Homo sapiens: one gene and its partners. The protein of the gene in region 1 purifies or fractionates together with the protein of each later gene. This does not show direct contact. Each region holds a gene or a part of one and is shown on either strand. Other genes may lie near its edges.

Region 1 (3,654 bases):
TTCTTTTCCATTTGTTGCATAAATTATATGATCCTGCATCTCTCACAATTGTGCTTAAGATGAGGGACAATATAAACTTTAAATCATGACAAAAAAAAAATCAGGAGAAATGCCTGCTAATTAATTCAAAAAAATAATTCATCCCTGCCCTTGAGGAACATCTAGTCTTGTGGGAAAGATTGGTAAACATAATTATAATTGAATGTGTACAGTGCTTAAATAGAGGAATATTAAAAAGTGCTAAGGAAACAATGTCCCCTGAGTGAAAAGAATGCTTTAAAGAGAACATCTGAGCTGAGTCTTGAAGGATGAATAGAAGTTTGACCCATTTCACGTTAAGAGGCTGTGCTAATAACAATCACAAAACATAAAAGATGCAATACCTGTATTTTCCCATTCTTGTAAAGGTGAATTCACAGTTCATGTTACAGTCTAAGACATTAAGACTTTTTTTTTTTTTTTTTTTAGAGACAGGGTCCTGGTCTGCCACCCAGGCTGGAGTGCAGTGGCATGATCCCAGCTCACTGCAGCCTTGACCTCCAGGGCTCAGGGGATCCTACCACCTCAGCCTTCCAGGTAGCTGGAACTACAGGCATGCGCCACCATGCCTGGCTAATTTTTGTATTTTTTTGTAGAGACAGGGTTTTGCCATGTTGCCCAGGCTGGTCTCAAATTTCTGGGCTCAAGCAATCTGCCCACCTCAGCCTCCCAAAGTGCTGGGATTACAGGTGTGAGCCACCGCACACGGCCTGACATTAAGACCTTTTAAATAAGAATGATTTTTTTTAAAACAAGATACATAATCTTAGCATCCTGATCCATGTTTATAGTCTCTCCCAGTGATCAACTGAAGGCACTTTCCACATGTCTAAACATTTTATAATCTAAAGTGTTAAGAGTATTATTTCAAAAGATGATTAAAAGATAACCATCCTCATCTGTCCTACTGCCCAAATTATATTGTTAACACATTTCCTGATTCATAATATTGAAATTATATATGTATTCCCTCTCTCCTGAGACTAATGGTGACCAAGCCCAGAAGATGCAAGTGACAACAGAAGCTACCATGGGAAGAAAGGTTTTAAAAGTTTGTTTTTTAATCATATCACTGTTTTCTCTTGTAGTTATTCTTAAATTATCTTCCAAGGGCAAATTTAAATGAAAATTAACTTTTTTCCAAACTGTAGTGATAAATAATCTTCAGTAAAACACAATAAAGAATATAATATATATCTTTTCTGATCTTACAAGGTGTTTTAGGGCTACATTCCGATTTCACAGAATTTAAGATACCGCTAAAACAAAAATTTTCTGGTTTTTAATCACGAAACTTTGATGTTAACTAACCAAGGCCCAAATAGGTAGTAAATTCAAAACAGTCCCTGCTCTTGAGGAACTCCTGGTCTTGTGGGAGAGACTGCTAAACATAATTATAATTGAATGTGTACAGTGTCTGAAGACAACTTGTATTAGAGCTATATTTCCTTATTTCTCAGTATGTCTTTTTGTCCCTTTCTAGAATTCCATAATTTCCACCTTATTATTCCTTTTCTCAATTATTATCTGGAAAAATTAATTTTATATTAATATCTTAAACTGGGACCCTATTCCTATAGTTAAAACTCTAGTTGAAAGTAGCATCATCTGACTTTAATTGCCTGGAAGGGCAAGCTGTGGAAAATCCTATCATGTCCTACCAATAGGAGGAAAAAGAGGTGAAAGTCAAGCCAGGAGACCACAAATGGCAATTACAAAATCATGGCAAGTTTGAATTCAAAATGAGTGTTTTTGTTTGTGTATTTTACCCGTCTTTTGTTTCTCTAAACTTAGCATCCACATAATATAGCTGTTTTTATAGAGGCTTCACTCAAATCATAACCTTTTGACTTAAAAAACATTAATATTTGTGGTAATTCTTTTAAAATTAGTTGAGTATTAGCATGATAAAATTAAAGGTTTAACAATAATAATGGAACAATTAAGGAAACTACCTCCTAAAAGTTTATCTTTTAGAGTACAGTTTTGTACAAATAATACAGAATACATTTGGTTAGGTAACAAGGTTTTAATTACCTGACTATTAGAAAAATAATAAAAATCTTGAAAGATAAGATTTTATCAATTTAACCATGTCTTTATCTTACCTTTTAAACAACTAAATAACACAAACCTCACTGAAACATTTGACCTGTTTTCTTTTTCTAAAATTACAACTATTTTGCAATATGCTCAATTTTTCCAAAGCAAAACCCACAAACATACATATAGAATATAAATGCTTAAATTCGCTTGATGAAAGTTCAATCACAAAACCCTCCAACTAATACTAAAATAATTAAATATCTTGCACGCTTACTCCAAATTCCACCGTGAAAATGATGTCTTTTCATAACTCCTATAATAGCATTTTAATCAAGGTTAGTAACAGACTGGAAAATTTGTGAAAAGAACATTACTTTAAAAATCAACATGAAAGATTTCACAACTTTTTTAGCCAGTCAGCTTCAAAGACACAATTTGATTCAATAAGCGTTACTGGCATATTATTTCCAATCTACGTGAAAAAACGCTTGGTTTAATAATGTACTTTAGGCTTTCTGTATCTTTTTGGTAAGGAAAGAAAGGAACAGGTGGAGTAGATTAGCCAGAGACCAAGGTCTTATTTTCACGCCTCTATAAATTCAATCCTCCAAGACTTACTTTCTCTGTTCTTTAAAATGGCTACCACCTTGATCTACCATGCAAAAGAAAAAATGTTCAGCATACTATCAAGATAAGTCTGGTTATTTTGATAGTTTATGTCCTCCTTTCCCACAAAATAAGATTCCCATTCCTTTACTGTTCAGATAAAATGACCATTAAATAAGTACGCAAAAGTTGGTCAGTTGGAGTATGAGGGCAACCTATATAACCCAGATTAAGTCATCTTTCCTACCATATCTGACTAGGAAAAGTAGGCAACAATATCTTTCACAGACTAAGATCAAACACAGTAGAAATGAAAAAGGGATGTCTAGTAAAGGAGAACAAACGTGGGAACCACAACCCCCCAAGAGATTATTTTAGCAGCTCAAAATAGATTAACTATTATGTGGGTTAGCAAAAATTAAGCTTTCCATAATATTTCTAAAAAGCATTTTAGAGATAATAAAACCACTTGGCGCCCCCAAACCTGTTTTTAATGTGAACACATGCTCAACAACTATTCTGAAAATATTGTTTACATATTACTATTATTTCCTACTCCCTCTGAAACCATTCCATAACTCTTGCTCTATAAAACTTCCCATAAAAATGCATTTTTCACATACAAAACACAATATACAATGTTTTAGAGTCATTTTGTGCATACATATAGCTACTAAATAGATTAACTTCAAATCTGTTGAATGTCTCCAGAAATATGACATGATCTTACCTCTCATCCTCGCCATCCACCAGGGGTGTCGTCAGCGGTAGCACCTTCAACGGGAAAAGAGAAGCAGAGGCTGCTAGGCTGCTGCTACTCCCATCTGAAACTGCTGACATTCCCCCACTGTCACCACTGATAGTCTGAGGTAAGCCAACTAAGGAGGGCTCCGCTGCACGCCTGGCATCTTCAATTTGGCTTCCAATTGCCTGAGCTAATGATTGTGCGGAGAACTGGGTAGA
Region 2 (3,654 bases), on another chromosome or scaffold:
TTCTGTGCCTCCAAACCCAGGCCGCGCTGGCCCGTTCAGAGGGCCCGAGGCTCAAGGATGGCAGGGAAGCTCTACGGGTTAAGGCGCTTGGCATTTCCAGCGAGCTTTCTGCTCCTTATTTATTTATTTATTTATTTATTTATTTATTTATTTATTTGAGACAGAGTCTCACTCTGTCGCCTAGGCTGGAGTGCAGTGGCACGATCTTGGCTCACTGCAACCTCCACCTCCTGGGTTCAAGCGATTCTCCTGCCTCAGCCTCCTGAGTAGCTGGGATTACAGGTGCCTGCCACCATGCCTGGCTAATTTTTGTATTTTTAGTAGAGACGGGGTTTCAATATGTTGGCCAGACTGGCCTTGAACTCCTGACTTTGTGATCCACCCGCCTCCGACTCCCAAAGTGCTGGGATTACAGGCGTAAGCCACCGTGCCCGGCCTCCTTATTTATTTATATGACTGAATACAGCAGCATCTCCAGTCACTGGGTCTTCATTTACCAATAACTGGTAAATGAAGAATGTCCATGAGCATTTAAAAATAGTTTTAAAAAATCTCAAAATCTGCAAAGGCTATGACATGAGTCACCAACTTTGGTTATAAACTAATGTGGGGTGTCACACACCTTGAAGGTTGTTCAGTTGTACCTGCTGGAGAAAGGAAACACCACAAACCAAGGGATCACCGAGTGGAAAAACAGCCTTCCTGCTACCAAGCATTAGGCCCAGGACAAGGGCGAGGGCAAAATCATTTCAGGAGAGCTGCACGTAAGTGGATTTACAAACTAGTTAGCACATCTGCCTTGCAGAACTGGAGCAAAAATGGCTTGTAGCTCTGGAAAGGAAGCCACTTGGACCAGGAAGAACAGATAAAGAAGGATGACTCACACAAGCACCACACCACTGCAGGTTAGCTGAGCCATATGGGAGGAATGCATGCACACGCACTGGGACACACGTGACAGAGAGGGACACAGGACATCGAGGTCCTGTGTGAGGGGCAGCAGCAGCCAGGACGGTGTTTGTTTTCACCCAGGCAAGAGGCTGCCCAGTGAGCACACTGGCACGAGGACAGGCTGCTAATGAGCAGCAAGAAGGAGGAAGAATTGTCCCCACCTTGGCTGTCCCCATCAGGGAAGCCCTCCCTGCCTCCTGGCCAGGCACGTAGTCACCCTTCCCAGAGCACTCATGGCAGCATCCATACCATGACTGGCACATAGCCAATCACCCAGGGAGCTTTACACACACACACACACACACACACACGCGCATGTTTACACACATGCATATTCACACAAGGCCATGTGTGCACGCACACCCCTATATCCGAGGCTCTGGGGCAGGGCCTGGGAATGTATGTTGCTTCTGATGATCAGCCAGGTTTGAACTTCACTAGGACTAGATAAAACTCTAAAGGCACTTCCAGCATTAGAGGACAATGATTTTATGAAACATGCACATATTTTTTAAAGAGCCATTTTTTTCTCTGTATTTTCTCTTGGAGGAGGGATATGCTTTTCTCTCTTTGGAGACATGAATTGACTCTGTCACTTGAGGGATGTCAGCAGGTCACCTCTCACTGCCCCATTGGGCACACACTCCTGGGGCTGCTGAAAGGCTCAGCTATGAGGCAGGCGAGCCAGGAGCCCAGGCATGCAGGCTAACAGCCCGCAGCCCAGAATGAGGATGCGGGGGTGACCCAAAACCAGCACACTCCAAGAGTAAGACTGAGCCATACTTCTTCCCAGGGCTCCCCTGGATCCAGGTGGTAACACTGGCCTTTGGTGCACGGGGACTAGCAGTGGCCTCTCAGCATCCTGTTGGTCTCACCAATGCCACCTCTTTCAGGTTTGGTTGGTTATATTCCTATCGTCCTGACATCCTAACAGCTACCATGTAGTGGGTGCACTGATTGATCCCCCTCCCTGTGCACCAGGCACTATGCCAAGTGCTCTGTCACACTGACCAACTGTCACCCCAAGTTCTTGTGAAGTGCTCTTATTAGCTCCATGGTACAGATTGGAGAACAGGGTTAGTCATCTGCCCAGGAGTGCAGAGCCAGGAGCTAGGGTGTCAGCAGGGCCACCTGACCTCGAGGCTGTATTCTTAACCTAGCGCATGTTCATTCCTTAAGCCTTCTGGAACGAAGCCTCCTCCCACCCATCTTGCCTCTGGAGAGGAGACAGCAGAGTCCCAGCCCCTGGCCTCTGTGCAAGGCATCTCCTGGCTTACCTTGGCCAGCCTCGCTCGCTTGATGAGGTCGTTGAGCTTGCGCACCGCTGCCTTCTGGGGGAGGCTCTGGATGTCTCTAAAGAGGTCCTGGGCCTCAGCCTCGAAGAGCCGGCGGTTGTCCGTGTTCTGCAGGGGCTGCGCCCAGAAGGAGCCAATGTAGACGCGCAGTACCTCGGGCGTGTTGATGACCTTGCCTAGGGACCACATGAGGGCCCCGTAGACCCGCATCAGCTGCTGCGTGTCCACTTGGTCGGCCTTGTTCAGCACGACACGGATCTTGTCGTCCTGGCCCCGGAAGGCCTTGATGGCCTCTGAGAATTCATCTGAGATGTCCAGCTTGTGAGCGTCAAAGAGCAGGATGATCCTGTCCACCCTCTCGGCAAACCACTGCAGGACCTGGCAGAAGTCATAGCCTGGGTGGAGAGAAGGACACGTCAGTGTAGCCACTGCTGCAGGAGACACGTTTAATGGGCGGCTCAGGAACAGTCTCGCTCTCCAGCAGCTGCCAGGGAGAGAGCCCTGTCTCCAACCTGGAGGCAGTGGAGGCCTGGTGACATGAAAATCACGGGCTGGATGAATCCGGGTGGGAAGGACCTGGGGAGCCCTTCCACAGGAGGAGGGAGGAAAGAGAATGGGGCTCATGGTCACTTTGGGAATTGCTGACTTTCATATCTGCGATTTCATTTAGTCCTCATGAGTGTTTTATTTCACCTAATACAGACCTTTTGCTTGATGGCAGAATTGATCAATGGTTTTATAAAAACACAGGCCATGGGTCAAAAGATCTTACTTCTGAAAAGTCTCACTTTTCTGAAAGCCCCAAATACAGAAGAAAGAGAACCAGAGGCCACCTGGCATCCCATGGGGGTATCCAGTAAGCATAACAGAAGAGGCATCGCCTTCAATTAACCCAAGTTTGTAGAGTGCTGAGGAGGTCAAAGGTTGGCCCAGCCAGTGTTGTGATCAATATTTATCTTTGGACTATTTATAACTCAGGTATATTGTGAATATTTTTTTAACATTACGTATCACAGCCATTGTGTAAAATGGTCTCTTGCCAATTTCTTTTTTTAAAATGGCCTGGCCCACAGCAAATTCTGTCCAGCCTATTCTGACCACCTCCACAAATCATGCAGCTGCATAAACACTCTTCAGCCCAAGGTCAAGGCTCTCAGGCCTTTCCCCAGGGAGGCAGATTCCCACGAAAAGCAAACAAGAGGAGGCCAAGCCCACAAAGTTGACTTTTAATCTCAGTCTGACTAGTTGCAGAAGCAGAGTCTCAATCCAGCCCAGCTAGTGCTGAGATGTCACCTGCCTGACCCCCATGCTAGGGGTCGTCTCCCCTCTTCTTTTAGATTTTGAAAACTTTCAAACATACATAAACATCTGTAAGTCATATAATGAATGCTGATGTACCTACCACATA
Region 3 (3,654 bases), on another chromosome or scaffold:
AAAAGAAAAAAAGCCAGAGGTGGTAAAGGTCTGATTTTCAAGGAGAGGTGGCTTACTCAAGGAAGAAAGAAGAAAACCAAAGCAGTCCCAGGAAAGTCAGGCCTATAAGGTTATTATTTGGTAATTCTGTTATATGTCTTTATTTTGCCTAAATAAGCAAGGCAATTTAGGCGGAAGATAGCTCTTGTCTTGAGTATTTGGATAACTGCACTTTCCCATACTACAACTGTGAAAAGATCAGCTTGTTTTATATATATATATAGATATATATGTATATCTATATATATATGGAGATAACTGCTGTGCATTCAGAGAAGAAATTTCTGGATAATTTGTAATCTGGAGTAATGTTAAATTTCTTATAACCCCATGCCCCAAAAAGGGTTGTGATTTGCATCTGCTTTTCTCAAGATCAGGCACATCATTTGGCAGTAGTAATTAAGATCATCACATAGTAAAGAGTTGTAGAATTATAGGGGTAAACTTAGTAATCTATATGGCAGAGAACTATTTGTATTTTGAAGAGAGATTACATTTGCCATCACATTTCTAACTATACTACTAAGTATACTAAGAAAACACCAATTCAAGAATGTTTATTTATTTATTTTTGAGATGGAGTTTCGCTCGTTGCCCAGGCTGGAGCAATGGCGTGATCTTGGCTCACTGCAACCTCCGCCTCCTGAGTTCAAGTGATTCTCCTGCCTCAGCCTCCTGACTAGCTGGGATTACAGGCATGCACCACCATGCCCAGCTAATTTTTTTGTACTTTTAGTAGAGACCGGACTTCACCATGTTGTCCAGGCTGGTCCCGAACCCCTGGCCTCAGGTGATCTACCCACCTCAGTCTCCCAAAGTGTTGGGATTACAGGTGTGAGCCACCATGCCCGGCCAAGGATGCTTATATGATGCAAAGCTATAGTTTCTAGTTTTTTCTTTATGTGAGGTACACTGAAAGCTGGATTTACACACAAATGTAACCAAACTTGGCTACTTCAGCCAGGGTCCAGCAGCTTACCAGCACAAGCTGGGGGTAGTCACGACACATCTTGATGATGGAGGAACAAGCATGCCTCCTCACATTCCTCACTGCCCGGGTTCTGGGGGCCTGAAAAGAGACATTCAACAAACTCGGAGCTGCTTTTAATATAATATACAGGTGCTGCATAGACTCATGTGAATATCTCAGTCAGGGGCAAATTCACAATGATTTTTCACAACCCTAAGAGTATAATGGAGTAACATTTATAGCCACCAAGAATCCATGTTTCTTGTATGCCCTATAGTGGCAAAACAACATATATGATAATCTACCACCCTTACTACCCCCTCCCATTTATATAAAAATATAAACTGAGTATCAGGTATTCATACATTTGTACTCAAGAAGTTAGAATCTATTGGTTTAATTAATGGTCTTACCTTACTTTCTTCAACAGTTTCAAAAGTGACAGATGAAAATAGCTAAGGGAGAGGAGGAAAAAAGGTCACTCATGTTTATTTGTTTTAGAGATGAGATCTTGCTATGTTGCCCAGACTAGACTTGAATTCCTGGGCTCAACTGATTCTCCTGCTTTAGCCTTCTGAGTAGCTGGGACTACGGGCATGAGCTTATTCATACTGTCCATTTTCTCAGATAACCTCTACAAGAGTCATCGGAGTCACAATTTTACCATCAAAACATTTTACAATAGGATCCCAGAACAATTCATGCCATCACCCAAGCACTTGGCTATGGAAACGCCTCTCTCTTCTTTTATCAAAAGTTGTATGGTCTATCCCTTCTATTCCATTTCATTATTTCCCATTTACTCCTCATTCCAATGAAATATGGCTGCTTACTTGGCCACTATTATGGAATTAAACTCAGACAAGAGTGTAGTCAAGAAACTCACTGGGCATTCTCCAACTCAAATAATTTGCAACAAATGAGCCCACTTTTCTGAAGTCCTACTGGTCTTGTGACACAACATTTTCTTCATTTCTCTGGCTCTTTTTCCTTCTGTGGGGGCTTCTCATTTTTTTCTCCACTCCTCCAATGATGGTGATTCACTAGGTTCCTCGCTTGACTCACATGTCTCCTAACTCTACATACATAATCACTTCAGTAAGACTTCACTTTTAGTCGTGGGACTACTATGATGATGATGCTTTAATTTTATCTCATTACTTTCTAGAGTCTAGATCTTCAACCTCAAATAGCCAATTTATTGTGAGATGTCTCCATAAAGATGTTCTACATATTCTTCAAACACAGTATTCCAAAATACTCATGCTTTCTCTTCTTTAGTCCCGTTCTCCTTTGTGATCTGGTATTCTGACTCAGGGAGTGGCTCTATCACCCACCTAGTCAACTGAACTGGAAACCTGGAAAGTGTTCCTTCCTCTCATAAATCCCCTCCCTGCCCGACAGCACACTCTAATACTCTCCTTTATACAAGTCTTCATTGCAATGCCATATAGGTAACATTAACTGTTTTTGTGCCTTTCTTCCCAGAGTGTTCCTAAAGAGTGAGGCACTAGCATGGTACCTGATCCACAGTAAGTACTGAGTAGATATTTAATAAATGAATAAATAGCTGTGTTTATTAGTTTGCCTCACATAATTTTAAAAATAGTTACAAAAATAATTAGCCTAGGCCAGGCATGGTTGTGCATGCTTGTAGTCTCAGCTACTCAGAAGGGTGAGGTGTGAGGATCCCTTGAGACTAGTAATTTGAGTCCAGCCTGGGCAATGTAGCAAGATCCTGTCTCCAAAAAAATAAAATAAATAAAAATTAACTTAGAAATGTCAAAATAAAATTTACAAAGGAGATGGGCTTTATACCTTAGAGAAGACCTGGGGCAGGAACTCTGGTCTGTAGGTGACAAATGGAAAGAGTGCAGAGACATTAGTAAGGACGCAGGACAGGATGAGGGGATCCTTGGTATCAAAGTTCAGAACCATCTGCAATAGCTCTATTCCATCATTAACAGGAATTTCCTGTAACAAAGACATAAAACAGGTTGACAATGGCTGCCTCCACTTAGAAATAACCATTTTGGCTACATTTTATTTTCATCTTTTAAAGAGACAGGGTCTCATTCTGTCACCTAGGCTGGAGTGCACAGTGGCACAATCATCACTCACTGTAACCTCAAACTCTTGAGCTCAAGGGATCCTCCTGCCTTAGCCTCCTGAGTAGCTAGGACTACAGGCGGGCACCACCATGCCTGGATACTTTCTAAAATTTTTGTAGAGATGTTGTAGAAGTGTTGTTATGTCGACCAGGCTGGTCTCAAACTCCTGGTTTCAAGTGATCCTACGGCCTCAGCCTCCCAAGTAGGTGGGACTACTGGCACGCACCACCATGCCTGGCTAATTTTTTAAATTTTTAGTAGAGATGAGGTCTCACTATATTGTCCAGGCTGGTCTCAAACTCCTGGGTTCAAGCATTCCTCCCATCTTGGCCTCCCAAAGTGTTGGGATTACAAGTGTGAACCACCGTACTCAGCTGTGCGTGCCCTTCTTACCATCTTCTCAGCAGTGTATTATTCCCTAAAACCTCTTAAATTTTGTATTTCTTCAACTGATCAAGAGGCTGAATGTTTTTCATATTTATCAGCTACTTTATTTATATATCACTCTTGGTTGCCCAGTGCAATGGCACGATC

Evidence for each region.
Region 2: the proteins of TSC22D1 (region 1) and EHD4 purify together in Homo sapiens (co-immunoprecipitation; one large-scale study listed by IntAct). This does not show direct contact.
Region 3: the proteins of TSC22D1 (region 1) and XPO5 purify together in Homo sapiens (co-immunoprecipitation; one large-scale study listed by IntAct). This does not show direct contact.

What each region holds. Positions count from the first base shown.
Region 1 is NC_000013.11:44,569,742-44,573,395, forward strand, and holds part of TSC22D1 (TSC22 domain family protein 1), read right to left. Parts: coding exon 3,422-3,654; intron 1-3,421. UniProt on the Homo sapiens protein: Transcriptional repressor. Acts on the C-type natriuretic peptide (CNP) promoter. Acts to promote CASP3-mediated apoptosis.
Region 2 is NC_000015.10:41,916,982-41,920,635, forward strand, and holds part of EHD4 (EH domain-containing protein 4), read right to left. Parts: intron 2,642-3,654; coding exon 2,229-2,641; intron 1-2,228. UniProt on the Homo sapiens protein: ATP- and membrane-binding protein that probably controls membrane reorganization/tubulation upon ATP hydrolysis. Plays a role in early endosomal transport.
Region 3 is NC_000006.12:43,548,471-43,552,124, forward strand, and holds part of XPO5 (exportin-5), read right to left. Parts: intron 2,984-3,654; coding exon 2,828-2,983; intron 2,542-2,827; exon of another isoform or gene 2,500-2,541; coding exon of another isoform or gene 2,498-2,499; intron 1,465-2,497; coding exon 1,423-1,464; intron 1,109-1,422; coding exon 1,019-1,108; intron 1-1,018. UniProt on the Homo sapiens protein: Mediates the nuclear export of proteins bearing a double-stranded RNA binding domain (dsRBD) and double-stranded RNAs (cargos). XPO5 in the nucleus binds cooperatively to the RNA and to the GTPase Ran in its active GTP-bound form.